Linked DNA regions of Homo sapiens: all the other regions are linked to region 1. The links come from fine-mapping of genetic effects on gene expression. A gene starts in region 1. Each other region holds a variant in brackets. All regions are shown on one strand. Distances are between the middles of the regions. Region 1 holds the start of AGFG2 (ArfGAP with FG repeats 2). Region 2 holds the start of LOC107986829 (a long non-coding RNA gene). Region 3 overlaps AGFG2 (ArfGAP with FG repeats 2).

Evidence for each region. PIP is the estimated chance that this variant, and not a neighbour inherited with it, causes the effect. A credible set is the group of variants that fine-mapping cannot tell apart.
Region 2: its variant is the best candidate, but not a certain one, in a credible set for the expression of AGFG2 in whole blood (INTERVAL, PIP 0.69).
Region 3: its variant is the best candidate, but not a certain one, in a credible set for the expression of AGFG2 in cerebellum (GTEx, PIP 0.65).

Annotation. Positions count from the first base shown.
Region 1 is chr7:100,532,986-100,543,658 of GRCh38, forward strand. AGFG2 (ArfGAP with FG repeats 2) reads left to right here and starts at 6,218. Exons shown (of 12, transcript NM_006076.5): 1 at 6,218-6,582. The coding sequence starts at 6,362. LOC124901708 (a long non-coding RNA gene) reads right to left here. Exons shown (of 2, transcript XR_007060453.1): 2 at 10,482-10,647. RefSeq lists a cis regulatory region at 348-692, an enhancer at 5,568-6,069 and silencers at 5,949-6,228, 6,279-6,578, 9,133-9,222.
Region 2 is chr7:100,502,667-100,513,339 of GRCh38, forward strand. LOC107986829 (a long non-coding RNA gene) reads left to right here and starts at 7,098. Exons shown (of 4, transcript XR_001745301.2): 1 at 7,098-7,135; 2 at 8,316-8,470. The variant C/T (reference allele first, on the strand shown) is at 6,012.
Region 3 is chr7:100,556,401-100,567,073 of GRCh38, forward strand. It overlaps AGFG2 (ArfGAP with FG repeats 2), which reads left to right. Exons shown (of 12, transcript NM_006076.5): 7 at 5,859-5,979; 8 at 6,194-6,282; 9 at 6,463-6,546; 10 at 7,434-7,562; 11 at 7,818-7,903; 12 at 8,532-10,673. The coding sequence ends at 8,591. Among named protein-coding and RNA genes, the nearest start is that of SAP25, 12 kb to the right of the region's middle. RefSeq lists enhancers at 3,335-3,384, 3,655-3,704. The variant A/G (reference allele first, on the strand shown) is at 5,544.

The DNA.
Region 1 (10,673 bases):
CTATTATTTTTCTCTCTAAAATTTTTTTGCTGGCCGGGCACGGTGGCTCATGCCTGTAATCCCAGCGCTTTGGGAGGTGGAAGCAGCTGGATCACTTGAGGTCAGGAGTTTGAGACCAGTCTCGCCAACATGGTGAAACCCCGTCTCTACCAAAAATACAAAAATTAGCCAGGCATGGTGGTGGGCGCCTATAATCCCAGCTACTCGGGAGGCTGAGGCAGGAGAATTGCATGAACCCGGGAGGTTTCAGTGAACTGAGATCGCGCCACTGCACTCCAGCCTGGGCAACAAGAGCAAAACTCCGTCTCAAAGAAAAAAAAAAAGATATTTGCTTTCCACGCCCCAAGTCACTCATGCTCTGTGGTTTAACTGCCCAAGGGCAAGGTTCTTGCCAGGGAACCCAATAAGAGTTCTACCTGGTTATTTAGGACTCCTCCTGCCACCAGGGCAAAAGGTCTCCCCATGCTGGCTGTGCTCCCCCTGATTATGAAGGGAAAATGGGAGTGTTGCTCCCCAGTATGACCTGGGTGGAGTAGAGATGGGAGGAGGGTGAGCTCCTCAACGGCCCTCACACCACCACACCCAGTGGCAAAAATCAGCAGAAAACCATCACTATCTACATGAACGTTCTAATTTTTTTCACTCACTATTGGTGGTAGTTAAATTTACCAATTTGCTCAAAGTTGCAAGATGATAAGAAATAACCCTTGGCTCAGCTGGGCACGGTGGCTCACGCCTGTAATTCCAGCACTTTGGGAGGCTGAGGCGGGTGGATCACCTGAGGCCAGGAGTTCGTGACCAGCCTGGCCAACATGGTGAAACCCCGTCTCTACTAAAAATACAAAAAATTAGCCGGGTGTGGTGGTGGGCGCCTGTAATCCCAGCTACTAGGGAGGCTGAGGCAAGAGAATTTCTTGAACCTGGGAGGCGGAGGCTGCAGTGAGTCGAGATCGCACCATTGTACTCAACCTAGGCAACAAGAGTGAAACTCTATCTCAAAAAAAAAAAAAATGCTGAGCACGGTGGCTCACGCCTGTATAGCAGAACTTTGGGAGGCCGAGGTGGGCTGATCATGAGATCAGCAGATCGAGACCATCCTAGCTAACATGGTGAAACCTTGTCTCAACTAAAAGTACAAAAAATTAGCCGGGCATGGTGGCATGCGCCTGTGGTCCCAGCTACTCATGAGGCTGAGGCAGGAGAATCGCTTGAACCCAGGAGGCGGAGGTTGCAGTGAGCCGAGATTGTGCCACCGCACTCCAACCTGGGCAACAGAGTGAGACTCCATCTCAAAAAGAAAAGAAAAGAAAAGAAAAAAGAAATAACCCTTGGCTAATGAGAAGCTAGAGGAGGCATGGGCAGCACTTGGAAATTGTGAACTCTGCAATTCAGAAGGAATGTTTAGTAGGCTGAGATGCCCCATCTGCATATCTGGATGTGACGGTATTGCCTTCTTTTTTTTTGAAGAGGGGGGTGAGGGGGATAGAGTCCCGCTCTGTCACCTGGGCTGGAGCTATGCAATCTTGGCTCACTGCAACCTCTGCCTTCCAGGTTCAAGCAATTCTTGTGCCTCAGCCTCCTGAGTAGCTGGGATTACGGGCATGCGCCATCACACCGAGCTGATTTTTGTATTTTTTTTTTTTTGAGATGGAGTTTTGCTCTTGTTGCCCAAGCTGGAGTGCAATGGTGCGATCTCAGCTCACTGCAACCTCCAACTTCTGGGTTCAGGCGATTCTGCCTCAGCCTCCTGAGTAGCTGGGATTACAGGCATGCGCCACCATGCCCAGCTAATTTTGTGTATTTTTTAGTAGAAACGGGGTTTCACCATGTTAGCCAGGCTGGTCTCAAATTCCTGACCTCAGGTGATCCACCCCCCTCGGCCTCCCAAAGTGCTGGGATTACAGGCATGAGCCACTGCACCCGGTCTGGTGTTGCCTTTTTTTAGGGATGTTGAAATGCATGTGGCTGTGATAACTGGAGAAAAGGAACAAAGTACACATTGGGTGCCTAGGGTTTACTTCTGGGCCTGCTTCTAGTCTCTCTCTACATGCTGTACCTAAGCAACCAGTCCCATGGCTCTAAGCGATGACTCCTAAACCTACATTTCCAGCTCTGGCCTGGCCTGGAAATCCAGTCTATACATATCCACCTGCCTGCTTATCAGCCCACTGGATGCCTCACAAGGATCTCAAATCAACATGTCCAAAACCAAGCTACTGATTTCTGCCTATCAGCACCCCCTAACCCAGCAGTCCCCAACCGTTTTGGCACCACGGACCAGGAAGATAATTTTTCCACTAACCGGCGGGTGGGAGTTGGGGGATGATTTTGGGATGATCTGAGCACATTAAGTTTATTGTGCACTTTTTTTTTTTTAAACGGAGTCTCGCTCTGTCACCAGGCTGGAGTGCAGTGGCACGATCTTGGCTCACTGCAACCTCCACCTCCTGGGTTCAAGCGATTCTCCTGCCTCAGCCTCCCAAGTAGCTGGGATTACAGGCACGTGCCACCATGGCCAGCTAAGTTTTGTATTTTTAGTAGAGACGAGGTTTCACCATGTTGGCCAGGATGGTCTCGATTTCCTGACCTCGTGATCTGCCTACCTCAGCTCCCAAAGTGCTGGGATTAGAGGCGTGAGCCACCGCGCCTGGCCTGTGCACTTTATTTCTATTATTATTACATTGTAATGTATAACAAAATAATTATACAACTCACCATCATGTGGAATTAGTGGGAGCCCTGAGCTTGTTTTCTCGCAACTAGACGGTCCCATCTGGGGGTGATGGGAGACAGTGACAGGTCATCAAGCATTAGATTCTTATAAGGAGTGCATGACCTAGATCCCTTGCATGCGCAGTTTACAATAGGGTTCGTGCTCCTATGAGAATCTAATGCTGTTGCGGATCTGAGAGGAGGCAGAGCTCAGGCGGTAATGGGAGCAATGGGTAGTGGCTGTAAATACAGATGCAGCTTTGCTCATTTGCCCACCACTTACTTCCTGCTGCGTGGCCTGGTTCCTAACAGGCCACAGACAGGTACTGGTCCATGGCCCAGTAGGTTAGGCCCTGCCCTAACCTACTCCTCCTTTAGTCTCCCCTTTTCCTTTCCTTTTCTTTTTCTTTCCTTCTTCTTTCTTTCTTTCTTTTTTTTTTTTTGAGACAGTCTCGCTCTGTCACCCAGGGTGGAGTGCAATGGCGCGATCTCAGCTCACTGCAACCTCCACCTCCCACGTTCAAGCAATTCTCCTGACTCAGCCTTCCAAGTAGCTGGGATTACAGGTGCCTGCCACCATGCCTGGCTAATTTTTGTATTTTTAGTAGATTAAAGGGTTTCACTATGTTGGCCAGGCTTTTCTCGAACTCCTGACCTCGTGATCCGCCTGCCTCGGCCTCCCAAAATGCTGGGATTACAGGCATAAGCCACCACGCCCAGCCCATTTTAATTTAATTTAAACTTAAATAGCCACATATGATTAGTGGCTGCCGTATTGAAGAGAGTAGCTCTAGATTTTTGCTTTGGGCAACTAGGTGGCTCATGGTGCCATTAATTGAAAAATGGGGCCGGGTGCGGTGGCTCACACCTATAATCCCAGCACTTTGAGAGGCCAAAGCGGGCAGATGACCTGAACTCAGGTGTTCGAGACCAGCCTGGCCAACATGCTAAAAATACAAAAAATTAGCTGGGCATGGTGGCATGCACCTGTAGTCCCAGCTACTCGGGAGGCTGAGGTGGGAGGAGCACTCAAGCCCCAGGAAGTGGAGGTTGCAGTGAGCCAAGATTGTGCCACTGCACTCCAGCCTGGGTGACAGAGTAAGACCCTGTCTCAAAAAGAAAAAAACAAGAGAGAGAGAGAGAAAGCAGGCTGCCAGCCACCAGCCTGGACAACATAGTGAGACCCCTTCTCTACAAAAAATCAAAAATTAGCCAGGCATGGTGGTGTGCGCCTGTAGTCTCAGCTACCCTGGAGACTGAGGTGGGAGGATCACTTGAACTGGGGAGGTTGAGGCTGCAGTGAGGTATGATTGTGCCACTGCCCTCCAACCTGGGCAGCAGAGCAAGACCTTGTCTCAAAAAAAAAAAAAAAAACAAAAAAAACAAAACAAAACAAAAAGAGGCCGGGTGCGGTGACTCACGTCTGTAATCCTAGCACTTTGGGAGGCCAAGGTGGGTGGATCATTTGAAGTCAGGACTTCAAGACCAGCCTGGCCAATATGGTGAAACCCCATCTCTACTAAAAATACAAAAATTAGCTGGACATGGTGGCACGCACCTGTAATCCCAACTACTTGGGAGGCTGAGGCAGGAGAATCGCTTGAACCTGGGAGATGGAGGCTGAGGTGGGCGGATCACTTGAGCCCAGGAGGTCCAGACCAGCCTGGGCAATATAGTGAGACCCAATCTCTACAAAAAATTTTTAAAAATTCGCCAGGCATGGTGGTGCACAGCTGTACTCCCAGCTACTTGGAAGGCTGAGGTGGAAGGATCACTTGAGTCCAGAAGGTTGAGGCTGCAGTGAGCCATGATTGTGTCACTGCACTCCAGCCTGGGTGATAAAGCGAGACCCTGTCTCAAAAAAAAAGTAATTGTTTTAAAAATGGTGACCAACCCAATCTGAAGTACCCAACAGGTGGCCAGGCATTGTGGCTCATGCTTGTAATCCCAGCACTTTGGGACGCCAAGGCGGGAGGCTCACTTGAGGCCATGAGTTTGAGACCAGCCTGGCCAACATGGTGAAATCCTGTCTCTACTAAAAATACAAAAATTGGCCGGGCGCGGTGGCTCACGCCTGTAATCCCAGCACTTTGGGAGGCCAAGACCGGCGGATCACGAGGTCAGAAGATCGAGACCATCCTTGCTAACACGGTGAAACCCCGTCTCCACTGAAAATACAAAAAAATTAGCCAGGCGTGGTGGCGGGTGCCTGTAGTCCCAGCTACTCGGGAGGCTGAGGCAGGAGAATGGCGTGAACCCAGAAGGCGAAGCTTGCAGTGAGCCGAGATCGTGCCACTGCACTCCAGCCTGGGCGACAGAGCGAGACTCCATCTCAAATAATAATAATCATAATAATAAAAATACAAAAATTATCTGGGGGTGGTGGTGGCCGCCTGTAATCCCAGCTACTCAGGAGACTGAGGCATGAGAATTGCTTAAACCCAGGAGGCAGAGGTTGCAGTGAGCTGACATCGTGCCACTGCACTCCAGTCTGGGCAACAGAGTGAGACTCCATCTCAAAAAATTAAAATTAAATTAAAAAATTAAAAAAGTACCCAAAAAGTCTTTTCCAAGATGTGATTTTAATTCTCTGCGTAGGATTTATTACTAACTGGTGATTCTTTAATTTGTGTATTGTTTGCTTCCCCCTACTAGAAACTAAGCTCTATAAGAATATTTTGTTTGATTGCTTCGCTGCTGTATTCTATTCCCAGTGTCTAGAACGTGCCTGAAACCTAGCAGACACTCAGTGTTTGTTAAATGAATAATCGAATAATAGTCCACCTACTAGGAGGGTTAAAGGCAGGGTTTCTAAAGTTGGAAGACCCAGAGTGGAATCCTGGGCCACGCACTCGTGTGATCTGCCGCAAGTTGTTGAACCTAAGGGTGTAAAATGGGGATTCCACCTCTGGGATAGGCGGAGCGAATGAAATGACATTTATAAAGCACTCCCTTCGCTCTGTGGCTCAGGAATTAGAGCACTGGTCTAGTAAAGCACTCTTGCTCCCTCTCCCTCTCTCCCTTAAGCGCTCTCTTCTTTCCCCCTCCTGCTCAGCCCCTCACATGGCCACTTCTCTTCGGCTTTGCATGACACTCTACACAGTCTAGAGTAAGCCTTTGAAATTTGCCGGGAATTAACGTCATCAGTCGGGAGGACGACAGCTACGCACGCGCGGGGCACCTCCTCTGTCTCGCGCGCTAACTTTGCAGCCCCGCCAGCCAATCAAAATTAGCGTCGGAGCCCGAGTGCCGAGGACTCACCAATCGGAACTAGGAGGCGGGCCACGGTGGAGGCAGCGGCGAGAGGGGGCGGGGACAAGGAGAGGGCACGCACGGTTCTCGCTGCTGGGGTCTCTGCCGGCCAATAGGAGAGGCCTGAGGCCTGAAGGCGGTGGGGCGGGGCATTGGCGGCTCCAGCAACCGGAGGCCGTCCCAGGGAGGGCCAATCGGAGTAAGGAGGTGGGAGAAACCTAGCCAATCAGTGTGCAGGACGGGCAAGGAGGGTGGTGGACGGCGAAGTCTCCTGCGGATGCCGCCCGCTCCCGAGCTTCTGTCAGGGGAGCCGGGCGTGCGGAGGCGGCTGAGGAGGCGGGAAGGCGGCAGTGGTTGAAGGGGTGATTGCTGACTAGCGGGGAGGGAGTGGGCAGCGATGGTGATGGCGGCGAAGAAGGGCCCGGGCCCGGGCGGCGGGGTCAGCGGGGGCAAGGCGGAGGCGGAGGCGGCCTCGGAGGTGTGGTGCCGTCGGGTGCGGGAGCTGGGTGGCTGCAGCCAGGCCGGGAACCGCCACTGCTTCGAGTGCGCCCAGCGCGGGGTCACCTACGTGGATATCACCGTGGGCAGCTTCGTGTGCACCACCTGCTCCGGCCTCCTGTGAGTGACCGGGAGGGAGTGGCCGAGGTCGGCGTGGGGGGACCCGGGGGCGGGGTGGGGAGGCCGGGGCTCCGGGGCGCGAGGGAAGGGGGCCGAGGTGAGGGGCGGAGGGGAGGTCAGGGAACGCGCCGGCTGTGGGGACGGGGTCGTCTGCTGCAGCGGTGTGGTGGGGAGGGGAAAGGGCAGGGGAGAGGAAGCAAGGCCGGAGTCGCTCTGCGGAGAGAAGGGTACGGGTGCAGAAAGACGCCCGGAGAGGGACCGAGAAACTCCCCGAGGGGGTCGAGGCAAACTGCAAGTGGGGAGGGAGAAAGTGCGGAGGATGGAAGGGAACTCGGAGTGGGATGGGGTGTCGGGACTTAAAGGGCCAGAAAATGACATGCACCTTTAGAGGGAACTTCATGCAGGTGGAAAGCAAAAAGGAAAAAGGTGGGGAAAGCCGGCCTGGAGATGGACGGGCACCTTTCTTCCTTCGGGCTTGTGTCCCTGCTGGAGTGTGAGATGCAGAAGCCAGCTGAAACTTGGTTGAAATTCCTATGATTAGAGTACAGGATTAAAAAAAAAAAAAAAAGCGAATTAACCCCGATTGACAGCCTAGAGATAGTGGCTGGAAGGGAGCCATGGTCCAGAGTTCAGGTGTAGATACTAATCTTAGCAGGGCTTTGAAATGTTACCCAGAAGGTAAAACTCTTACGAAATCTAAGAGATGAGAGCCAATGGGTTACCCTGGTAGAGAGCTTAGCTTTTTCAAACGTTTGCACGTCTAGGTGAGCCATCCTGAAGGTTAATCATTTACACCTTTAAGATCCCTGTTGCCATGACTGGATCCTGGTGGTAGCATCCAGGAAACTCTAGATTTTGGGGGGGCTTTGGTGCATCATCTGAGTGCTACTCTTGGCATTGGTACTGTTCGGTCATGCCAGAGTGAATTTACAGCCACAATTCTAGCCTAGATTTCTGGTTATATAGTAAAGCCCCCTCCACTCCCCTCTGCACTCCTCCTACTCCCAAATTAAGATATTATTTGGTTAGATGCATGATTAACATCTGATATCAGGCCTGGATCTCTGTTTTTTAATAAGTTTGTCAAGGGATTTATTTTGACAATTTTTTAGTCTTATTTTAAGACACTGTTGTTTTTGTTTTGTTTTTTAAAAAATGCTTTCCAGCCAGGCGCTGTGGCTCACGCCTGTAATCCTAGCACTTTGGGAGGCCGAGGCAGGCAGATCATGAGGTCAAGAGATCGAGACCATCCTGGCCAACATGGTGAAACCCCATCTCTACTAAAAATACAAAAATTACCTGGGTGTGGTGGCGCGCACCTGTACTCCCAGCTACTTGGGAGGCTGAGGCAGGAGAATCACTTGAACCCGGGAGGTGGAGGTTGCAGTGAGCTGAGATTGCGCCACTGCACTTCAGCCTGGCGACAGAGCAAGACACTGTCTCAAAAAAAAAAAAAAAAAAAAAAGCTTTCCCTGTCTTGATACCTTTAGGAGCCAGGGAGCGAGCACTATTGTTCTTGCAAGACAGATGGGAGAACAGAAGCAAAGAGAGGTTTCGTAACTTATCCAGTGCCATATGGGCATTGCGGTTTCCAACATTTGTTGTTTGATATTAGTGATGATCATGGCAGACCAGCAATGAGGATTTAGTTTTCTCAAGATACCGTTTGGAATTATTTACTTCGTTTTAACCTCCTTTGCTAAACTTCTCTCTGGGTTCTGATCAACCTCACTTGTGGGTTGTAAGGATGAACTTGACTTTGGTCTAAGTAAAAGTCATCGTGGCTCTTGGGATAATGATTGAGAACCCAAACAGTAATGTGTCATAAACTGAGATGGACTGAAATGAAGCAAGAGGATAGAGACTCGAGAGTGGGTGAAGAACTCTGGGGAGAGATTGAGCAACGTTTAGGAGTATGTATAGGGGTCGGGCTCGGTGGCTCAGTATGTATAGGAGGCCAAGGTGAGCAGATCACTTGAGGTCAGGAGTTTCGAGACCAGCCTGGCCAACATGGCGAAATCTCATCTCTTACTAAAAATACAAAAATTAGCCAGGCATGGTGGCAGGTGCCTGTAATCCCAGCTACTTAGGAGGCTGAGGCAAGAGAATTGCTTGAACCCAAGAGGTGGAGGTTGCAATGAGCCGAGATCGCACCACTGCACTCTCCAGTCTGGGTCGCAGAGCGAGACTCTGTCTCACAAAAAAAAAAAAAAAAGGAGTATGTATAGGGTAAAGTAGAAAGAGAAAGAGCTGATTCCTGAAGATCCTGCTATGAGAAGCAGAAGGATGAAACTGATGGATAAAATTGAGTAACTGGGAAGTGCTGACATTGTTATCATTATTTTGTAGATCTTTGTTAAAGTGTCCCACAGATAACATTTCCCTTATAATACCCCTCAATCAGGACACAAAGAAAGCTAAGGTATCTGGGACACGTTAAAAACCTGGTTTCTTTTTTCTTTTTTTGAGATGGAGTCTCACTCTGTTGCTTAGGCTGGAGTGCAATGGCGCGATCTCGGCTCATTGCAACCCCTGCCTCCTGGGTTTAAGCAATTCTCTTGCCTCAGCCTCCTGAGTAGCTGAGACTACAGGCACGCGCTACCACATCTGGCTAATGTTTGTATTTTTAGTAGAGACGGGGTTTTGCCATGTTGGTCAGGCTGGTCTCGAACTCCTGATCTCAAGTGATCCGCCCGCCTCGCCTCCCAAAGTGCTGGGATTACAGGCGTGAGCCACGGCACCCAGCCTGCTTAGCTTTTTGGTAAAGCATTATGAGACTAAACCAGGGAGTGATTCTCACAGAGGAGGATTTAGAGAGCATATTTTGGTGTTTGGGAAATGAGAAGCTAGACCAACCCTTTGTTAGTAGGAAATGAGAGTGAAATGAAAGATCAAGAGGTTAGGCCAGTAAATGAAGCTGAATTGAAGGTATGTTGAGAGTGAGAAATTTCAGGAGAAACTCTGCAAGAAAGCTGGAGTTTCCCTATAATTAGCATGACAAGGGCAAGGCATATAATCCTTGTAAAGGGGTCTTAACACAGTATTACCTGTGTCCCTTTGATATGCTGTGGGAAGGAGTGGGAGCTGGCAGGTGGGCTGTAAGGCAGAATGTGAGGCAGGGGATGCTTATTTCTGGAGGCATGGCTCCATGGTGGCACGGAGACCAATTAGCATCTTAAATCCCCATGATTGATTACCTGTAGATTAGGGTTTGGTGTTGGTGGGAAGTGAAAATTGTGGTCGGCTGACAGCCTGCATGTTTATTCATTCGGTCAGTCAACACGAACTTATTCAGTGCCTATCAAGCGCCAGACACTGTTTTAGGTACTGGAGATACAGTAGTGATAAGTTCCCATTTTCACGGAGCTGACATCCTAGTGGAAGCCATGGACTATAAAGAAATCGTTCTGTATTGCTAAAAGCTATGAAGTAAAATGAAGCTCTGTGGGTTAGAGTGATACCAAACTGAGGTATGATGCAAAGAGAAGAAATATTATTATTAATTTTTTTTTTTGAGATGGAGTCTCGCTCTGTCGCCCAGGCTGGAGTGCAGTGGTCCGATCTTGGCTCACTGCAACCTCCACCTCCTGGTTTCAAGCGATTCTCCTGCCTCAGCCTCCCCAGGTAGCTGGGATTACATGTGCACACCACCACGCCCAGCTAATTTTTGTATTTTTAGTAGAGACGGGGTTTCACCATGTTGGCCAGGCTGGTCTCAAACTCCTGACCTCAGGTGATCCACCTGCCTTGGCCTCCCAAAGTGCTGGGATTACAGGCGTGAGCCACTGTGCCTGGCCTCGAGAAGAAATATTCTTTGTTAAAATGAAGAGGATATTGAGGGAAGAAATTGAAATACCACATTAGCACCGTAGCCACAGAAAGGAGACAGCAGGATGACATTATTTTAAAGGCCAGTTTTCTGTTCAGTGGGTTACAAATATGTCTCCTTCATAAGGGGATAGAGTCGTCTGGGGGCAGTGAGCAAAATTACTAGAATTCCCAGCTGGTTGGATTGGCCGATGTAGCAAAGTTGATGGTTCCAGCCAAAGTTGAATTTCCTAAGATCTGAAGAAAAACACACATTTTAATAT
Region 2 (10,673 bases), 30 kb before region 1:
GGCCAACATGGTGAAACCCTGTCTCTACTAAAAATACAAAAATTAGCCGGGTGTGGTGGCAGGCGCCTGTAATCCCAGCTACACGGGAGGCTGAGACAGGAGAATCACTTGAACCTGGGAGGCGGAGGTTGTGGTGAGCTGAGATCACACCAGTGCACTGCAGCCTGGGCTGACAGACTCTGTCTCAAAAAAAAAAAAAAATCCCTGCACGTACCTGGTTGTTTCCTCAAAGTGCCACCTGCGGTTTCCAGGTACCGTGTGTTGGAGTGTCTCAGTGCTAGCTGTTCAGATCCAGGTGTCCCTCATGCATGTCCCTGTAGAGTAGTGGTCCACTCTGCGGGGGTCCAGCTTCCCTTGCTCCTCTCTCTCTACCACCTCCACGTTGCGTCCAGGATGGGGTGAGGAGCATGTTGGCTGGGACTCGTCCAGGCCACACACTGACCTCTGCCACCACCCTGGGGGCAGTCTTTGCCACCATGAAAAATGGCTGGGAGCCAGGAGCCACAGGGTGGAAGCACCAGAGATGGTGTCACCACCATTTAAAAAAATTTCCACTGACCCGCCGGGCGCGGTGGCTCATGCCTGTAATCTCAGCACTTTAGGAGGCCAAGGGGGGCAGATCATGAGGTCAGGAGTTTCAGACCAGCTTGGCCAACATGGCAAAACCCCAACTCTACTAAATACAAAAAATTAGCTGGGCATGCTGGCACGCTCCTGTAATCCCAGCTACTTGGAAGGCTGAGGCAGGAGAATTGCTTGAACCCGGGAGGTGGAGGTTGCAGTGAACTGAGATTACGCCACTGCACTCCAGCCTAGGCAACAGGGCGAAACTCCATCTCAGAAAAAAAAAAAAAATTTTCCACTGACCAAGTGGTGACCTCATGCTGATGTTTTTTGATGTTCCTGCCTTAAAGCCCAGGAATGGGTGTGAGAGCAACATGTACACATTCCAGAAATTTCAGAGTAATGAGGGGGAAACCTGAAAAGATTAGAACTAGAGGGGAAATTTTAAAGATGCGCACTATTTATTTCACTGCCCATGTAGATCTGAAGTTATTTTGCTCGCTAGTAACATCAAATGTAGCCTTGTATTTGGGTCGTAAAGCTGTCATGGTTGGTCTACTTACAGATATGAAAATCTAAAAAAATGGAGAACACTTCCCCCCATTTAGATTGGTGGCTAGGTGAAGCAAAAAGGCTTACAGTGGCTGGGTGCCGTGGCTCATGCCTATAGTGCCAGCACTTTAGGGTGTTGAGGCAGATGGATCACTTGAGGCCAGGAGTTCGAGACTGGCTCGGGCAACATAGAGAGACCCCCGTCTCTGCAAAAAATAAAAAATAATAATTAGCCAGCCGTGGTGGCACATGCCTGTAGTCCCAGCTACTCAGGAGGCTGAGGTGGGAGGATCGCTTGAGCCCAGGATTTCAAGGCTGCAGTAAGCTATGATCACACCACTGCACTCCACCTTGGGCAACAGAGCGAGACACCCTGTCTCTAAAAACAAAAACAAAAATCTATCTGCAGACACCCTGTCTCTAAAAACAAAAACAAAAATCTATCTGCAATTGAACTCATTACTTCCCCAACCAGCCCTCATGTCTTGGACTGACCATCTCAGCCAGTGTCATCACATTCAGTCTCCCAAGGCAGAAACTTTTTTTTTTTTTTTTTGAGATGGAGTCTTGCTCTGTCACCCAGGCTGGAATACAGTGGTGCAATCTTGGCTCACTGCAACCTCCGCCTCCCAGGTTGAAGTGATTCTCCTGCCTCAGCCTTCCGAGTAGCTGGGATTACATGCGCGCGCCACCATGCCTGGCTAATTTTTGTATTTTTAGTGGAGACGGGGTTTCGTCATGTTGTACAGGCTGGTCTGGAACTTCTGACCTCAGATAATCCTTCCGCCTTGGCCTCCCAAAGTGCTGGGATTACAGGTGTGAGCCACTGTGCCCGGCCTTAAGGCAGAAATCTCTATGTGGAAGTACATGGTTTATTTCTCTCTGACACACACCCATTATTAATTAAGATGTCAGTTTACCTCTTTCAAAACAGACCCAGGCTGAGCATGGTTGCTCACACCTGTAATCCCAGCACTTAGGGAGGCCAAGAGGGGCAGATCACTTGAGTTCAGGAGTTTGAGACCAGCCTGGTCAACATGGCGAAACCTCATCTCTACTAAAAACACAAAAATTAGCTGGGCGTGGTGGTGGGCGCCTTTAGTCCCAGCTACTTGGGGAGGCTGAGGCAGGAGAATCGCTTGAACCTAGGAGGCGGAGATTGCAGTGAGCCAAGATCACGCCACTGCGCTCCAGCTGAGGAGACAGAGCGAGACTCCGTCTCAAAGAAAAAACAAACAAACAAAAAACCCAGACCCAAAGAACAGTGGTTTAACCTAAATGGGGGATTACATCTTGCTCATATAAGGGTCCAGACATTAGCAATCCATAACAGATACGGAAGCTGCAGTTCATCAGGAGCCAGGCTCTTTCTAACTGGTTGCTCTGCCGTTCCTAGGGTTCTGCTTTTGTTCCACAAAGTCTGAGGGGCTTTACTATCAGGTCCACTTTGTACTCAGCAGGATGGTGCTTGCCTGGGGTACAATAGACATGACAATTAACCCTCAAAATACCTAAGAGGTAGTGGTTTTATTAGGTTGAACTATATGAAATTGCCATTTTGGGGTCAAATATAATAGAATATTGGCAATTTTATGTCATTCAACCCAGTGGTATCTCTGAAGATAAAAGCTCTGACACACAGAGAGGTCAAGTAACCTGCCCAAAGTCACACAGCAAGTGAATGGCAGAGAGGGGCTTCAAATTCAGAGCCTCCCTGGAAGCTGGGCCCGAGGAAGATTCTTCAGTAGATAAGGCTTGGTTCCTGTCCCCCATGCACTTATAACCTACTTGCAGGGCAACATATGAACACTGGAACTGTAATCACAGTTCAAAAGAGAAACAAGTTTGATACAGCTACATAAGAAACTCATGAGGCCTGGCGTGGCGGCTCACGCCTGTAATCCCAACACTTTGGGAGGCCGAGGCAGGTGAATCACTTGAGCCCAGGAGTTCAAGACCAGCCTGGGCAACATGGCAAAACCCCATCTCTACTAAAAATACAAAAATTAGGCCAGGCCCGGTGGCTCACACCTGTAATCCCAGCACTTTGGGAGGTCAAGGTGAGTGGATCACGAGATCAGGAGATCGAGACCATCCTGGCTAGCACATGAAACCCTGTCTCTACCAAAAATACAAAAAAAAAAAAAAAAAAAAAAAATTAGCCGGGCATGGTGGCAGGCGCCTGTAGTCCTAGCTACTCGGGAGGCTGAGGCAGGAAAATGGCATGAACCCACTTGCAGTGAGCCGAGATCACGCCACTGCACTCCAGCCTGGGCAACAGAGCGAGACTCCATCTCAAAAAAAAAAAAAAAGAAAAACAAAAATTAGCCAGGTGCGGTGGCACATACCTATATATATATATTAAAAAGGAGGTCCCTGCCAATCCAATTAGCTGGTAGAACAAGACTTTTTTTTTTTTTTGGAGGTAGGGTCTCACTCTGTCACCCAGGCTGGAGTGCAGTGGCATGATCAAGTCTCACTGAAACTTTTGCCTCCTGGGCTCAAGCAATCCTTCACCCCTGTCTTCTGAGAAGCTGGGACTACAGGCACACACCACCATGCCTGGCTAATATGTTTTGTACTTTGTAGAGTCGAGGTTTCACCATGTTGCCCAGGTTGGTCTTGAACTCCTGAGCTAAAGTGATCCGCCCACCTCCACCTCCCAAAGTGCTGGGATTATAGGTTTGAGCACTCGTGTCCAGCCAGTGTTACAACTTTTATTGAAGCTTCAGTGCACAGCCGCAGCAAAGGTACGGCTCCTTGCAGAGCAGGGATGACCCATAGGCACTGTGTCCAGAATAGCAGCTGAGAGGCAGACCTAAACTCATTTATGCCCATTTTTAATTATATGCAAATTAAGGGGTGGCTTATGCAGAAATGTCTAGGATGAGGGTGGTAACTTCCAGGTCGGTAGGTGGTTGCCATGGAAAGGGGAGATAACTTCTGGGTGTTGTCATGGCAACGGTAAACTGACATGGCACTCTGGAAGGGATGTCTTTATGGAAAGCTGCTTCTGTCCCAACCCATTTTTAGTTGGTCCTCAATTTGGTCTGGTGTCCGTGCCCTGCCTCTGGAGTTGAGTCTTGCCTCCTACCTCAACAATCATTTTTTCTTTTCTTTTCCTTTCCTTTCCTTTTCTTTCTTTTCTTTTTTTTTTTTTCTTTTTTTTGTAAGACAGGGTCTCACTCTGTTGCCCAAGCTGGAGTGCGGTGGTGTGATCATGGCTCACTGCAACCTCAGCCTGCTGGGTTCAGGAGATCCTCCCACCTCAGCCTCCCAAGTAGCTGGGACTACATCGCGCACCACCACACCTGGCTAATTTTTGTACTTTTGATAGAGACAGGGTTTTGCCATGTTGTCCAGGCTGGGATAATTCTTTAATTCTGTGCTATTTAACAAAAGTGTGAGGTGCTATCTATGTAGACTTGGGTCTTCATCACGCTTGGTGGTGTGTGCCTGAGTGAGCGTACATACTTCCATAGCCCATGGATTTCTTTCTTTTTTCTTTTTTTGCGATGGAGTCTCGCTGTGTCGCCCAAGCTGCGGTGCAGTGACCCAATCTCAGCTCACTGCAACCTCCACCTCCCGGGTTCAAGCAATTATCCTGCCTCAGCCTCTGGAGTAGCTGGGATTACAGGCATGTGCCACTACGCCTACTTTTTGTATTTTTAGTAGAGACGGAGTTTCTCCATGTTAGCGAGGCTGGTCTCGAACTCCTGACCTCAGGTGATCCACCGCCTCGGCCTCCTAAAGTGCTGGGATTACAGGCGTGAGCCACCACGCCCAGCCACCTGTGGATTTCTTTATGTCTCTCCACCTTCTCACTTTGAGTTTATATGAGGCTGGGTTATGTCTTTCTGTGTTTTCCTGGGTCTTGGCATTTGTTTCTATCTCTTCCCCTCTCTTTCCTTCTGTCCTTTGTTTCTCCATCACACTGTCTCCTGACATCGATCTCTTCCTGTATCTTTGCTCTATAATTGCCCCATATAAATCCTAAGGATATATTTTATTGTTCATTGCACATATTAAATAGTTTGATGTGCCCTGCCCCTTAATTTAAAATGCAAAGAACAGGCTGGGTGTGGTGGCTCACGCCTGTAATCCCAGCACTTTGGGAGGGTGAATCACCTGAGGTGAAGGTAGGCGAATCACCTGAGGTTGGGAGTTCGAGACTAGCCTGACCAACATGGAGAAACCCCATCTCTACTAAAAATACAAAATTATCTGGGCGTGGTGGCACATGGCTGTAATCCCAGCTACTCGGGAAGCTGAGGCAGGAGAATTGCTTGAAGCCAGGAGGCAGAGGTTGTGGTGAGCTGAGCTCGCGCCCCTGCACTCCAGCCTGGGCAACAAGAGGGAAACTCTGTTTCAAAATAATAATAATAATAATAATAATAATAAATAAAATAAAATACAAAGAACAACATGTTCCATCGCTCCACCTAAATCTCCTATTTTATTGCTCCTTCTCTCTGACCTTTTTTTAGTTTGTTTTTATTTTGTCAAGTTATACACATACATAATTTTAAGAGTCAAATTGTACTAAAAGGTTAACAATGGTGAAAAGCAATCCCTGCTCTTTCTACTCTTGACCTGCTTCTTGGATTCAACCAACTTCTTCAGTTGTTTCTTCCAGTATATGCCTCTTGGTTTCTTTTCTGTTTTTTTTTTTTTTTTCTTTAGACAGAGTCTTGCTCTGTCACCTAGGCTGGAGTGCAGTGGCATGATCTTGGCTCACTGCAACTTCCGCCTCCTGGGTTCAAGCGATTCTCGTGCCTCAGCCTCCTGAGTAGCTGGGACTACAGGCGCGTGCCACCACACACGGCTAATTTTTGTATTTTCTGTAGAGATGGGGTTTCACCATGTTGGCCAGGCTACCCTTGAACTCCTGACCG[C/T]AGGTGATCCTCCTGCCTCGGCCTCCCAAAGTGCTGAGATTACAGGCATGAGCCCAGCTCCAGTTTCTAAATAACTTGCTTGTATAGCTATTCCTTGATTTTTCTATTTTAGATACGATCTATGATTTCTTAAAACAGGAAATGAGGATTTAACTTTTACACCCCCACACAAAACTCTTTCCCTTCCCCTATCCTCTCAATACAATTATATCATAAAATTTAGAATTAAGTATTTATAATATATATATTTTTTGAGACAGGGTCTCAGTCTCACTCTGTCTCCCAGGCTGGAGTGCAGTGGTGCAGTCATAGCTCACTTCAGCCTCCAATTCCTGGACTCAAGCCATCCTCCTGCCTCGGCCTCCAGAGTAGCTGGGACTAGAGGCATGTGCCAGTGTGGGCAGCTAATTTTTAAAATTTTTTTGTAGAGACAGGGGTCTCGTATGTTGCCCAAACTGGTCTTGAACTCCTGGTTTCAAGTGATTCTCATGCCTCAGCCTCCTAAAGTGCTGGGATTACAGGCATGAGCCACCACTCCAAGCCCCTAAGTGTCCGTTCTTTGCATTCCCTTGGCACTCCGTGTACACCTGCCACTGTTACATCAGTTGTTGTCTGCTGCATAACAAACTATCTCAGAGCGTAGTGGCTTAAAACAATTTTCATGTATTCTCTCGCAGTTCTGTGGATCAGGAATTCAGGGCATGACGGGATTGGCTTGGCTCTGCTCCACGACGTGTGGGGCCTCAGCTGGAAGACCGGAAGACTGGAGGGCTGACGTTACCTGCAGGCTTCATGGAGGCTGGAGGCTTGGTTTCCCAGATGGCTCACTCACACGGCAGGCAAGTTGGTGCTGGTTATTGGCAGCCGGCCTCAGTTCCTCCTGAGCAGCTCTATAGGTTGCGTGGATGTCCTCGTGATGCGGCAGCTGGCTTGCCCCCGGAGTGGGGGCTCTGAGAGAGAGAGAGCAAGGCAGAAGCACAATGTCTTTTATGACCTAGCCCCAGAAATCACACACTGTCATTTCCATCACATTTAGTTTATTAAAAGCAAGTCCCAGCCAGGTGTGGTGGCTCATGCCTGTAATCCCAGCACTTTGGGAGGCCGAGGCAGGCGGATCACTTGAGGTTAGCAGTTTGAGACCAGCCTGACCAACATAGAAAAACCCCATCTCTACTAAAAATACAAAATTAGCCAGGCAACAGGGTGTGGTGGCTCACACCTGTAATCCCAACACTTTGGGAGGCCAAGGCAGGTGGATCACAAGGTCAGGAGTTCAAGACCAGCCTGGCCAAGATGGTGAAAACCTGTCTGTATTAAAAATACAAAAATTAGCCGGGTATGGTGGTGGGTGCCTGTAATCCCAGCTACTCTGGAGGCTGAGGCAGGAGAATCGCTAGAACCCGGGAGGCAGAGGTTGCAGTGAGCCGAGATCACTCTACTGCCCTCTGGCCTGGGCAACAGAGTGAGACTCCATCTCAAAAAAAAAAATTAGCCAGGCGTAGTGGCGCATGCCTGTAATCCCAGCTACTCTAGAGGCTAAGGCAGGAGAATCACTTGAACCCAGGAGGTGGAGGTTGCAGTGAGCCAAGATCACGCCACTGCACTCCAGCCTGGGCAACAGAGCGAGACTCTGTCTCCAAAAAAAAAAAAAAATTATTTTCACTTTTTCTGGCCAGGAACCTTGCTAGATGCGATAGGTCCAGAAATTAAAAACTGTCCTGCTCTTGAGAAAACAGCAGGTTAGGCCACGTGTGGTGGCTCATGCCTGAAATTCTAGTGCTTTCGGAGGCCGAGGTGGGAAGATTGCTTGAGGCAAGGAGTTCGAGATCAGCCTGGGTAACAGAGTGAGACTTTGTGTCTACCAAAAGTAAAAAAAATTAGCCAGGCATGGTGATGCAAACTTGTAGTCTCAGCTATTTGGGAGGCTGAGATGGGAGGATCACTTGAACCCAGGAGTTGGAGGCTGCAGTGAACTACGATCACACCACTGCACTCCAGGCTGGGTGACAGAATAAGACCCAGTCTCTAAAAACAAAACAAAACAAAAAAAAAAAAAAAAGAAAGAGAAGAAAGAAAAGAAATGAGTGTAGAAAGGGATCCTTTAAGATGAAATCGATGCCTCCTCATGGAGTTCTAAGCCCTCAGAAGTGGAAGTCAACTGGAGTGTGCAATTTTCTATCTTTCAACTAACCCAACAGTTTCTACCTCACCCTCCTGCCTTCCTAGGACTCTGTGCACACACCCACCAGAGTGTTATCACATTGCAAGACAGAACCCAATTGTCTCCTTTATCTCCTCTACCAGACTTTGTGCTCCATCAGTTGAAGAGTAGGATGAAGAAAAAAAAAAAAGGTTACATGAAGATGATGGAATTATAATCAGGCCTTGAAGAACGGAGACAATTCCAGCCATTGTTGTAGATGTGGAGGCTGAAGGACATTCCAATTTGAAGGAACAGAGTAAGTAAAGGAGGGTGGGGCCAGATCAAAGAAGACATGCAGGCCAGGCGCAGTGGCTCCTGTCTGTAATCCCAGCACTTTGGGAGGCCAAGGCAGGCGGGCGGATCACTTGAGGTTAGCAGTTTGAGACCAGCCTGGGCAACATGGAGAAACCCTGTCTCTACTAAAAATACAAAAATTAGCCGGGTGTGGTGGCTCACACCTGTAGTCCCAGCACTTTGGGAGGCTGAGGCGTGTGGATCACAAGGTCAGGAGATCGAGACCCTCCTGGCCAAAATGGTGAAACCCCGTCTCTACTAAAAATACAAAAATTAGCTGGGTGCAGTGGCAGGCGCCTGTAATCCCAGCTACTAAGGAGGCTGAGGCAGGAGAATCCCTTGAACAGGGGAGTCGCAGGTTGCATTGAGCTGAGATTGCGCCACTGCACTCCAGCCTCAGATAGAGCGAGACTTTGTCTCAAAAAATAAGTAAATAGATAAATAAATAAGTAAATAAATAAATAAATAAATGGGTTGTTGAATTTGAGATCTTTCTTCTTTTTCACTGTAGGCATTTACAACTATAAATATCCTTCAAAATATTGCTTTAGCTAAATCCTTTAAGTTTTTGGTATATCATTCAGTTTCATTTATCTCCAAGTAGTTTCTAATTTCTCTTGTGATTTCTTTTTCTTTCTTTTTTTTTTTTTGGAGATGGAGTCTCACTCTGTCACCCACCCAGGCTGGAGTGCAGTGGCACGATCCCTGCTCGCTGCAACGTCTGCCTCCTGGGTTAGAGCGATTCTCCTGTCTCACCCTCCCAAGTAGCTGGGGTTACAGGCATGCACCACCACGCCCAGCTAATTTTGTATATTCAGTAGAGACGGGGTTTCACCATGTTAGCCAGGCTGATTTTGAACTCCTGACCTCAGGTGATCCACCCACCTTGGTCTCCCAAAGTGCTGGGATTACAAACGTGAGCCACCATGTCCAGCCGTGATTTCTTCTTTGACCTATGAGTTATTTAGGACTGCGTTTAATTTCCACATAGTTTTAAATTTCTCAAATTTCTATTATTGATTTATTTTATATTTCATTTTATTTTATTCTGAGACAGAGTCTCGCTCTGTCACCCAGGCTGGAGTGCTGTGGCACAATCTCAGTTCACTGAGGTTCACTGCAACCTCTGCCTCCCAGGTTCAAGCGATTCTTGTGCCTCAGCCTCCCAAGTAGTTGGGATTACAGGCGTATGCCACCTTACCTGGCTAATTTTTTGTATTTTTAGTAGAGACAAGGTTTCATCACTTTGGCCAGGCTAGCCTTGAACTCCTGGCCTCAAGTGATCCTCCTGCCTCGGTCTCCCAAAATTTTGTGATTACAGGTGTGAGCCACTGTGCCTGGGCTCTATTATTGATTTCTAATTTTGTTTTATTATGGTTAGAGAATGTACTGTGTATGATTTCAATCTTTTTAAATATATTGAGACTTATTTTATGGCCTAACATATAGTTCATTCTGGAGAGTGTCCTTGTGGACTTGAGAAGAATATAGATTATGCAGTTGGCGGGTTGAATATTTTATAGATACCTGTTAGGTCTGATCAGTTTATACTGTTGTTCAAGTCTTCTATTTCCTTGTTGATCTTCTGCCTAATGACTTCTCCATTATTTAAATGGGGTATGGAAGTCTCCTATTATTATTACTGACTTGGGCTCTGACATTCAGAGTCTAAAAATGATTAGCCAGCCTAATGAAATCCCCACTGCTTAGGAGGGTAACAGTGAGAGAGAAAAGGATGCCATGCAGGAGGCTATGCGGGCCATGAAAGATGAAAGAGACAGTGGCCAGTTCCCAGCCAACCTCAAATTCTTAGATTTTCAGTTCCAGCCCACCTATGTCCTTATGGTATGTCCAAGCCCTTTTTTCCCCCTAAAATTTGCAGTTAGTTCTTGTTTCTTGCAAATGAAATACCAAACTACTCTAACAAGCACAGAATTCTATTCCAGGAGCGGGGTTGCAAGCAACAGAATCTCCAAAGAGGCATGGAATCTTCATAGTAACACAGGAGAGAGAGTCAGAGATGATTTCCATGTCCCTGAATGGGAGGTTAGAAGTCCATGGATTGATAAAACAGTTCGTAAAGTCTTAGTATTCAGATACTATGTCCTTTGAAAGTAAAGTTTTGGGCTGGGCGCAGTGGCTCACGCCTGTAATCCCAGCACTTT
Region 3 (10,673 bases), 23 kb after region 1:
GCTCCTTCCTAAGCTCTACACATTGAGTCTTCATAGCCTTTGGGTGCCTTCTGCCATTGGACATCCTGGACACATGGGAGGGCAGCTGCAGTGCTCGCCGTCAGGCTCAGATGTCTGGGGAAAAGCCAGTGACATACACTCTTTCTTTCTCCCTTCCTCTACCCACCCTTCTCTTCTCCACCCTCACTGCCAGCCAGTCGGATGCTAACTGAAAGTTACAGCTTTGGTAAGTTATTATCCCCACCCCAGAGCCTACCCAAGTGCCTCTGATCATAGAGTTTTGAGGGCTGGAAGGAACCCTTAAAATTTGGCCATTTGACAGATAAGGCAGTTAAGCAATTTCCCTAGTCATGCAGGCCACAGAGCGACCAAGCTGAGACCAGAGCCCAGACTTCTTGACTCATGCTCTGCCCACAGCCTTCTCACTGTGCCACTGTGAGCTGATTAGCTGCTTTTGTTTTTATTTTATCGTTTTGGAGGGCTATAAGAAGAAACATTTTATATTGATAAAAGTTGGCTGGGCGTGGTGGCTCACATCTGTGATGCCAGCACTTTGGGAGGCCCAGGTGGGCAGATCACCTGAGGTCAGGAGTTTGACATAAGCCTGGCCAACATGGTGAAACACCGTCTCTACTCAAAATACAAAAATTAGCTGGGCATGGTGGCAGGCACCTGTAATCCCAGCTACTCAGGGGACTGAGGCAGGAGAATCACTTGAACCTGGGAGACAGAGGCTGCAGCGAGCCGAGATCCTGCCACTGCACTCCAGCCTGAGTGACAGAGTAAGACTCTTGTCTCAAAAAAAAAAAAAAAAGTTAAAATTCACAAAGAGGTTCTCAAAATCATGTACTTAAAATAACTGACCGCATACCCATGAGATTCACGAAGCAAAAACTATTAGACACAATCAGAATTTAATAAGCCAAAGGACTAGGAGACTATAATATGCTTTCCCACATGACTAATAGACAAGTAAGAAATAAACTATAGGAAACAAAATCTCCATAAATTCTAACAAAGACAAATCACATAGGTCACATTTTGGTTTTTGTTGTTGTTTTGTTGTTTGTGTGTTTTTTGAGACAGAGTCTTACTCTGCTGCCCAGGCTGGAGTGCAATGGCGTGATCTCATTCAAGCGATTCTCCTGCCTCAGCCTCCTGAGTAGCAGGATTACAGGCGCATGCCACCATGCCCGGCTAATTTTTGTATTTTTAGTAGAGACGGGGTTTCACCATGTTGGCTAGGCCGGTCTCAATCTCCTGACCTCAAGTGATCCGCCTGCCTTGGCCTCCCAAAGTTCTGGGATTATAGGCATGGGCCACTATGCCTGGCCATAGGTCACATTCTGTATGATAAAAGATGACACAAACAAAGCTTAAAGGTATGAAACAGATGGAGAGAAGATACAACATGGAAAACAGATGGAAATTAGTATCCATAAAGTATTTTTAAAATTCCTGTGAATATGAAAATATAATAATGGACAAGACATATAAGCAGGTAACACCCAGAAAAAAAAATATGAAAATAGGCCAGGCGCGGTGGCTCATGCCTATAATCCCAGCAGTTTGGGAAGCTGAGGCAGGTGGATCACCTGAGGTCAGGAGTTCAAGACCAGCCTTGCCGATATGGTGAAACCCTGTCTCTGCTAAAAATACAAATATTAGCCGGGCATGGTGGCAGGCGCCTGTAATAGCAGCTACTTGGGAGGCTGAGGCAGGAGAATCACTTGAACCCGGGAGGCGGAGGTTGCAGTGAGCAGACATCGTGCTGTTGCGCTCCAGCCTGGGCGACAAGAGCGAGACTTTGTCTCGAAAAACAAAAAAACAAAAGAAAATATCCTCAACCTAATTAATCAGAGAAATGCAAACTAGGATAAGATAGTTTTGCACATCATGTTGGCAAAATTTTTAGATTGATAATGGCCAGTATTATGTGGGGGAAAATGACCTTCTTGTGCGCTGTTGGCAGGAATTGTACATTGGTGCAGGAATATTCGATTTAGTAAGAAAGGTGTGCTCCTAGGAATGGGAGCACTCGAGGAAACAGCCTATATAAAGTTGTTATAGATGCGTCCCTTCTGAAATGCCTTCCCAGTACAATTGATTGCTCTAAAGACAGAGTTTTTTTTGTTTTTGTTTTTGTTTTTTTTTTTTTTTAGACGGAGTCTCACTCTGTCACCCAGGCTGGGGTGTAGTGGCACAATCTCGGCTCACTGCAAACTCCGCCTCTCGGGTTCACGCTATTCTCCTGCCTCAGCCTCCTGAGTAGCTGGGGCCACAGGCACCCGCCACCACACCTGGCTAATTTTTTGTATTTTTAGTAGAGACAGGGTTTCACCGTAAAGACAGTTTTTGGGGCAGACTCAGAGAGAAGGAAGGGCTCAGCTCCACGGATGTCCCAAGCATTAAACCTTTTGTCCACTATCTGGCTGTCTCAAAAAGCAGTCAGTCACTGGGCGCAGTGGCTCATACCTGTAATCCCGGCACTTTGGGAGGCTGAGTGGGGTGCATCATTTGAGGTCAGAAGTTTGAAACCAGCCTGGCCTACATGGTGAAACCCCTCTCTACCAAAATACAAAAATTAGCCAGGCATGGTGGTGCGTGACTGTAGTCCCAGCTACTGGGGAGGCTGAGGCAGGAAGATTGCTTGAACCCGGGAGGCTGAGGTAGCAGTGAGCTGAGATTGCGCCACTGCACTCTGGGTGACAGAGCAAGACTCTGTCTCAAACAAAACAAAAACAGTCAATCTACAGCCAAACCCAGAGCCAAGGAACATTTCCGAGGATCCTGCCATTGTTGGGTGCCTTCATGCATTATGTCCATGAGGAAGGAAAGAGCTTCCCTTTGCAGGAAACTGGCTCAACTTGGCCCAGATCTAATGCTGATAATTGGCAGAACCGCTTCCCACTACACCATGATCATGCAGGTGTTCCCGTGAGTGTGACTTAGCTGTTGGGTGTGAACTGAGAGAGGAGATTTTGAGAGGTGGGTGTCTCTTCTGACAAACCTGCTTTTATTTTTATATTTCTGAGGGGGAGTATGGAGAGAGGGGTTTTCAAAACTGCTTCTCTCCCTCAAACTGTGATAAGGCAGGGTAGAAATCTAGCTGCGTGGTATAAGAAGCGCATGAAGGCCGGGTGTGGTGGCTCATGCCTGTAATCCCATCACTTGGGGAGGCTGAGGTGGGCAGATCACCTGAGCTCAGGAGTTTGAGACCAGCCTGGGCAACATGGCAAAACTTCATTTCTACCAAAAATACAAATAATTAGCTGGCCATAGTGGTGCGTGCCTGTAGTCCCAGCTACTCAGGAGGCTAAGGTGGGAGAATCAGCTGAGCCCTGAAGGTCGAGGCTGCAGTGAGCTGAGATCATGCCACTGCACTCCAGCCTGGGCAATTGGAATGAGACCCTGTCTCAAAAAAAAAAAAAAAAAGTGCATGAAATGAAAAGCAAACAGGAGTGCAGGTGTTTCTTGGGCCACCGCCTCCTTTGTGAGAATGCACCCTCTGTGCAAAGGGCCAACCCTGCCTGGGCTAGGGATGGTTCTGCCCCCTAGTGTCCACAGGGAGGCACAGCATGGCCTGCAGCCTCTCTCCCAGCCTGGTCCTCACTGGGTGAAGCTCCTGGAACATGCAGGACCACAGCAGCACAAAGAGTCAGCCATCCGAGGAAAGGGAGCCGTGCTTGCGTGGAAATTCCACATACTGTACTTGGAGGCAGGCAGGCAGGGAAAGGCCTCGGCTGGGAGAGTCAGTAGAGGATCCAACACCATGCTGCTGGCTTTTTTTTTTTTTTGGAAACAGTCTTGCCCTGTCGCCCAGGCTGGAGTGCAGTGGCTCAATCTTGGCTCACTGCAATCTTCCTCTTCCAGGTTCAAGTGATTCTGGTGCCTCAGCCTCCCGTGTAGTTGGGATTACAGGTATGCACCACCACGCCCAGCTTATTTTTGTGCTTTTAGTAGAGACAGGGTTTTGCCATGTTGGCCAGGCTTGTCTTAAACTCCTGACCTCAAGCGATCTGCTTGCCTCAGCCTCCCAAAGTGCTGGGATTACAGGTGTGAGCCACTGGGCCTGGCCCCACCCAGGTGGCTTTCTAGCCTGTCTTGCATCCTGTGGATTAGAAAGGATTGATGACCAAGTAAGCACAGTGGCATTGTAGCCTTGCCCAGGAGGAAGCTGGCAGCCAGCACTCATTCATCTAGAAAGCCCAGGCATTTAGGAAGGAGGTGGCAAAGGAGAGCACTGTCTTACAAGTGCCGACACTCAGTGAGAGGGAGCGGGGCTTCAGGACCTGGCAGCAGGTAGGCACTGGGCACTTCGTCTTCCCTACTAGATTCTCAGCTTCACCCATTTAGGGCCCGGGTCGCTGTTATTTATGCATAGTGCCTGGCATGTGGAAGATCTCCCTTTTTTTTTTTTTTTTTTTTTGAGACGGAGTCTCACTCTGTCGCCCAGGCTGGAGTGCAGTGATATGATCTCGGCTCACTGCAAACTCCACCTCCCGGGTTCACGCCATTCTCCTGCCTCAGCCTCCTGAGTAGTTGGAACTACAGGCACCCGCCACCATGCCTGGCTAATTTTTTTTTTTTTTGTATTTTTAGTAGAGACGGGGTTTCACCGTGTCAGCCAGGTTGGTCTTGATCTCCTGACCTCGTGATCCGCCCTCCTCGGCCTCCCAAAGTGCTAGGATTACAGGCATGAGCCACCACACCTGGCCAGATCTCCCTTTTTTTTTTTTTTTTGAGACGGAGTTTCGCTCTTATTGCCCAGGCTGGAGTGCAATGGTGTGATCCTAGCTCACTGCAACCTCCACTTCCCGGGTTCAAGTGATTCTCCTGCTTCAGCCTCCGAAGTAGCTGGGATTACAAGCACCTGCCACCATGCCTGGCTAATTTTTGTATTTTTAGTAGAGACAGGGTTTCACCATGTTGGCAAGGGTGGTCTCGAACTCCTGACCTCAAGTAATCTGCTCGCCTTGGCCTCTGAAAGTATTGGGATTACAGGCATGAACTGCCGCGTCCTGTCAATAAAGCCTCTTTCCATCTGGACCCTCCTTTTACATTCACAGCAGCCCAGTGTGGTCGATAGGGTCCCAAGATAGAGACGAGACTTTGATGTGCAGACAGGAGGCTTTCTTAAAATGACAGGGACTCAGCCTCTTCCCCTGAGACAAGATTGCTTGGAATTTCCAGGACTCTTGGCCCTCAGCTGTTTTGTAAGATTTCCATGTGGGCCTTGCCCTCTGTGCTTTTTCTTTTTGGCTCTGAAGAAGAGGCAGGGCAGGAGAACCCCGCAGCGGGGCTGGCCCCATGAACAGTGCCTCCAGGCTCAGGGCACTGGGGCGGCCTCCCGAGAAGCAGCGGCTAAATGGGGAAGGGACAGTGCTGATAGCTGGAGGCTGCACAGGCCAGGAGCCTCCTGAGTGTGATGGGACTTGCTGTCCTCCATGGTGCCTCTGCCTGCCCCTCCCTGCCATGTTCTGATAAATGGAAATGCGGGCTTGAGGAAAGGACAGGCTTTTCCATCTCTTGAGGGAAAAGTG[A/G]GACATGAAAGCCAAACTGGAGCAGGAGGAGGACAGCCTGACCTGGGGACGAGCTGCTTTCCTCTCCGCAGCGCAGCTTTGAGCGCAGGGGACACGGAGAAGGGCTGGGCTGTCACCTTGCCCAGAACTCTTGGTGGGAGACAAGACCTCCTGAACTGGGTGGTCCCTGAGAAAATGGGCTGCCTCAGAGAACCCAGCAGGCACCTGTCATGCCATGACTCCAATCCATCACCACCACCACCTCCATCTGCTCTCCTGCCCCTCCCGCCCTGTCTTACCTCAGCTCTCCCTGTTGTATTTTCCACAACTGCCCAGGGAGCAGCCAGGGGACTCCATTTGGTGCCACTCCCCTGGCACCCGCCAGTCAGCCAAACAGCCTCGCAGACGTGGGCAGCTTCCTGGGACCCGGGGTGCCCGCTGCAGGTGTTCCTAGCAGGTAGGTACAGACAGTGGGCAGTCTGCTGTAGGGCAGGAGAGCCGCCCGAAGCCTGGCCATGTTCCTCCCAGCCCCATCGGCATCTCCTGGCAGTTCTCCCCTCCCCTCCTCTCCCTTACTCACCCTGGAGAGCAGGGTTGGCATCTCCTGGCCCCTTGCTCAGGTTTGATTGGCCCTGGCAGCTGTGTATGACTTCTCTCTCCCCGTGTTGTAGCCTCTTCGGGATGGCTGGCCAGGTCCCCCCGCTCCAGTCTGTCACGATGGGCGGCGGCGGCGGCAGCAGCACAGGGCTGGCCTTTGGAGGTGAGTCCTGCCTGTGGAGACCCAGGGGAGGGGACCTGAGGCCAGGAGGAGTCTAAGGACTCTGGACAGGGTGGGAAGGGGAGAGATTGAGAGGAATGCTCAGGCATCACAGGATGAAGCACGTGAGAAAAAAAGTAACCATCTCTCTCTTTCCTGCCGCTCCCCATTCCACCTGGGCAGCCTTCACTAACCCTTTCACAGCTCCCGCCGCCCAGTCCCCGCTGCCTTCCACCAACCCGTTCCAGCCCAATGGCTTGGCGCCAGGTAAGCCTCCAGCATGGTCCCTTGTCCTGACCATCTGAGACTTCCAAGGCACACATTACCCTGCAGCCTCTCCCTTAACCCTTTGTCTCACGCTGTCAGGAGAAGCAGACAGCCTGGTTCTTCCCCTGCCCACACGGTGCCAGGCCACCTAGCACCCAGGTCACAGAGCCAGATTTTAGAATTAGAAGCACACAGGTGGCTACTTACCGGAGACCGCACTGAAGACTGTTTTAGAGTTGACTGACAGTGGCAGCGATTCTCCTGTCTCCAGCCCTCAGCAGTGTCCCTTTGGGCACCCAGCCCCAGTCCCTTCTGTGTCCCGAAGCTTAAGCCACCTGAAACACTCACGCTGTTCCCTGCTTCCATCAACTCCAGGCCTGTTGTCTTCTCTCACCCTGGCCCTCCCCAGCCTCTGCTGCTCTCCCCTCAGACTCATGCTGGCTGAAGCCTTGAGGCTGGGGAGAGAGGAATAAGAGCAAACACAGAAGAGCTGTGTGGTGGGCCCAGTGCTGAGGGCTTCGTGGCCCTGATTTGATCTTCACAGTAGCCCTATGAGACGGACTGTCCCCATTTTAGAGATGAGAACTGAAGCACAGACAGCGTTAGAAGTTTGTGCTGTTTTTGCAGTTTAGTGGGAGGCTAGCCCAGTCCTGCACCGCGCCCGTGCCTGGAACTACCATGCCCTCCCTGCCACGTACCCCCGGGCAGGGAGAGGGCAGGGTTGTTTGGTGGTGTGAGAAGCAGAAGAGTTCCATGGCTGGGTCCCTCGTTCCTCATGTCAGGAAAAAACTATATCCCATTTTCCCATCTTGGAGGGACTTAGGAAAAACAGTTCTCCAGCCCACCTTCCAGAAGTTCACCTGAGCCTCCCGTCTTTCACTCCATAGGGCCCGGCTTTGGGATGAGCAGTGCTGGGCCTGGCTTCCCCCAGGCAGTGCCACCCACTGGGGCCTTTGCCAGCTCCTTCCCAGCACCGCTGTTCCCCCCGCAGACCCCGCTTGTTCAGCAGCAGAATGGTAAGAGCTGTAGATGGACAAACCCTTTCACCCCATCCCATCTCTGCATAGAGATCAGTTAGTTGTTCCTCCGACCTCATCAGAGCCCATGCAGTGCCCTTTCTGACCAGCAGGGGGGACCAGGGAAGCACCAGACCCGCCCGGGTACTTCCACTGCTCTGTTCCCTTACTCCCCCAGTTTAGGAGGGCCCCCCTTGCTGTCCGCCTGCAGGAAGGCAGGCTGGTGTCAGCTGAGTGACTGCTCTCGCCCCCTAGGCTCTTCCTTCGGGGACTTAGGATCAGCCAAGTTGGGGCAGAGGCCACTGAGCCAGCCAGCTGGGATCTCCACCAACCCCTTCATGGTGAGTGTGCCAGCAGGGGTGCTGTGGTAGGGCTCGTGGGCTTTCCCTCTGGGACAATCCTTCCAGAAGAGGCTGATGTGAGGTGGCCCCTGTGCCCCTTCCTCGTGAAGGTCTGCGTTGTCCAAGCCAGGGCTGAGCTTGGGCCTCAGCTCTTCTGGGCACTGGCATCTCCCATGCTGTTCCAGCCCTGCCCTTGGCTCCCTTCTCCCTCACTTTCCTTTTTTTTTTTTTTTTGAGACAGCCTCACTCTGTCTCCCAGGCCCAATCTCAGCTCACCGCAACCTCTACCTCCTGAGTTCAAGCAATTCTCCTGCCTCAGCCTCCCAAGTAGCAGGGACTACAGGTGTGCACCACCGCACATGGCTAATTTTTGTATTTTTAGTAGAGATAGGGTTTTCCCGTGTTGGCCAGGCTGGTCTTGAACTCCTGACCTCAGGTGATCAGCCCACCTTGGCCTGCCAAAGGGCTGGGATTACAGGCATGAGCTACCGTGCCTGGCCTTTTCTCCCTCACTTTCCCACTGCCCTCAGCATAGCGATTTTTCAGGAGAAAGGACTCCTGGCTGCCTTTCTTCTAAGCTTCCAGTTCCTCTCCCCTAACTGGAAAATGTATTGTTCTTTCTTTCCAGACTGGACCCTCATCAAGCCCATTCGCCTCCAAACCTCCAACCACCAACCCCTTCTTGTAGCACTGTGTTTTTGGGGGGCCTCTTCCCTGCCTTCTGGGGCCCCTCTGCTCCCTAGAGCTCTGGTGACCACTTGCCTGTGGGCATTTCTATGGGCCTTGGGGATGGTGGAGGTGCTAATGCTTTGCTTGGGGCCTACAGGTGAAAGGTGGCTGCCCTCAGATTCCACAAAGCCTCTCTCCCCTCCCTCGTCCCACCCCCACCCAGGCAGGAAGCCCAGGAGGAGTGCGGGCAGGGCCTGACCTGGAGGAGTGATGGTTGAGGGGGAGGGATTTTTTTCAAATGATCAGTCCCCTGTGGAACAGCTCTTCCCTGGGCCTAGCTCGCCAGCGCTGTGCTCCTCATGGACGGGAGCGCAGTGGGGAAGGTAGGGGAAAGATGAGGCACAGTGTTGATGGGGCAGTGACCAGACAGTCCTGAGACCCAGAAGGCCCAGGTGGCCCAAGTGCTCTTGGTGGCCCAGCTTGGCCAGCACACACTTTCCTCCTGCAGCACCCCCTGCTGAAGGGGTCCCCCATTGTTTTGCTTCCCCAGCGCCCAGGATGAGCGGTTTACCATCGAGCTTACCCGGGCCCGGCTCCTGTCAAGCACTTTAGTTAGCTGTTGGTGTCATGTTTGGATACCAGTGTTTTATATTTATACATAGAGAGGATTTTCTAATATAGCCTATTATATATAAATAGATCTATCTATATGCACATACATACATATATACACACACCCAGCCGATCTCCCGCTCCCAGACTGCTCTCGTATGTGGGGAATGGGATGAATCCCCATCTGTGCCTCGACCATCAAAGCCGGAGCTCCAGGGCTGGAGGGGGGGCAGCCATGTGTCCTGACCCCCACCATCCCCAGAGCCTGGGTTTTCCAGGGAAAGGCTTTGTGCAATTGCCTGGTCTTTTTTTTTTTTTTTTTTTCTCCATGTGCCTCCCTGTCCCCAAATCTCTGCACCAAAGCTCATTGCAGGCAATGTTGGAAAAGAACTGCATTTGAACGAAAGAGAAAACGGCGCCTGTGGTTTTGCTTCAGGCCACTTTGAGGGGTTGCAGGTCAGTCAACATGACTGATCCTTGACCTGGCTCTGCTGGGCTGGACTGCCTGGGCCAGTGATAATGCTGCCATTGGCCAGAGACAGGGCAGAGCCCGTCCCTGTCTGAACAAGAGTCCCGCATTAGCAATGAGAAGAAGCGTGGCGGGAGAGGAGCCACCACTGCCGGGGACTGGAGTTTGTTGGATGTGAGGGGAATGCCCACTGGGGCCAGGGTGGGCAAAGGAGGTTGGTGCCAATGTGGTGCTGGAAGTAGACCCCTCCTGGGTCTGGAACATTCTCTGCCCCAGGCTCTTTCCACCTGGGGATGTTGTGACAACATCCAGCTGTGGTGTCTGGGCTATTTGTGTGGTGACAAGACAGACCTGGTCAGGGGGTGGGTGGCAAACACCTCACCTGGCTGGGCAGAGGCCACCTTGCTGTTTGGCCCAAGGCCAGGTGAGGCCCCTCCCTTTCCACCATTGCCCTGGCCCCGTGGCCATTCATTCTTGGGGTTTGTCTGAGTCTTCCACAGAGAGCAGCAAAGAGATATGGGAGTTGGGTGATCAGTGTATTTACTTTGCAGATTTTTCTGGAAATAACCTCTAGCTGCTGCTATTTGCAAGGCTGGGATTGGCCTCCCTGTCTTTTCCAACAATCAGGACCCCATCCTGTCTGTTCCTGTTCTTCTCCCAGCCTCTGCCCTCCTTCTGTCTCCTGGGTGGTCTCCCGCTTCGCTCCTGGCCTTTGCATGTTCCATCTCTTCTCTTTCTCCCCTCTTCGCCACCCTAGATTATCTCTGTGTCCCTCTACCTAATTCTCTTACCAGTTCTTTCCTTTCTGCTTAGAGCCGGAGGGAGGGAAGCTGGAATCTGTTATGGTGTATTAGGGGGAGGAGCCTTTCTGTTATTTCCCCCCAGCTTCCATCACCCTTCCCTTAATGCCAGGAGCGCCGAGGTTTGGAACTGAGGCTAAACCGAAGGGCTTTCTCCTGCTTCTGTCACCCTGTGCTGTCTCCCGGCATCTCCTCACTATCTGGGTCCAGGCCCGGGTCC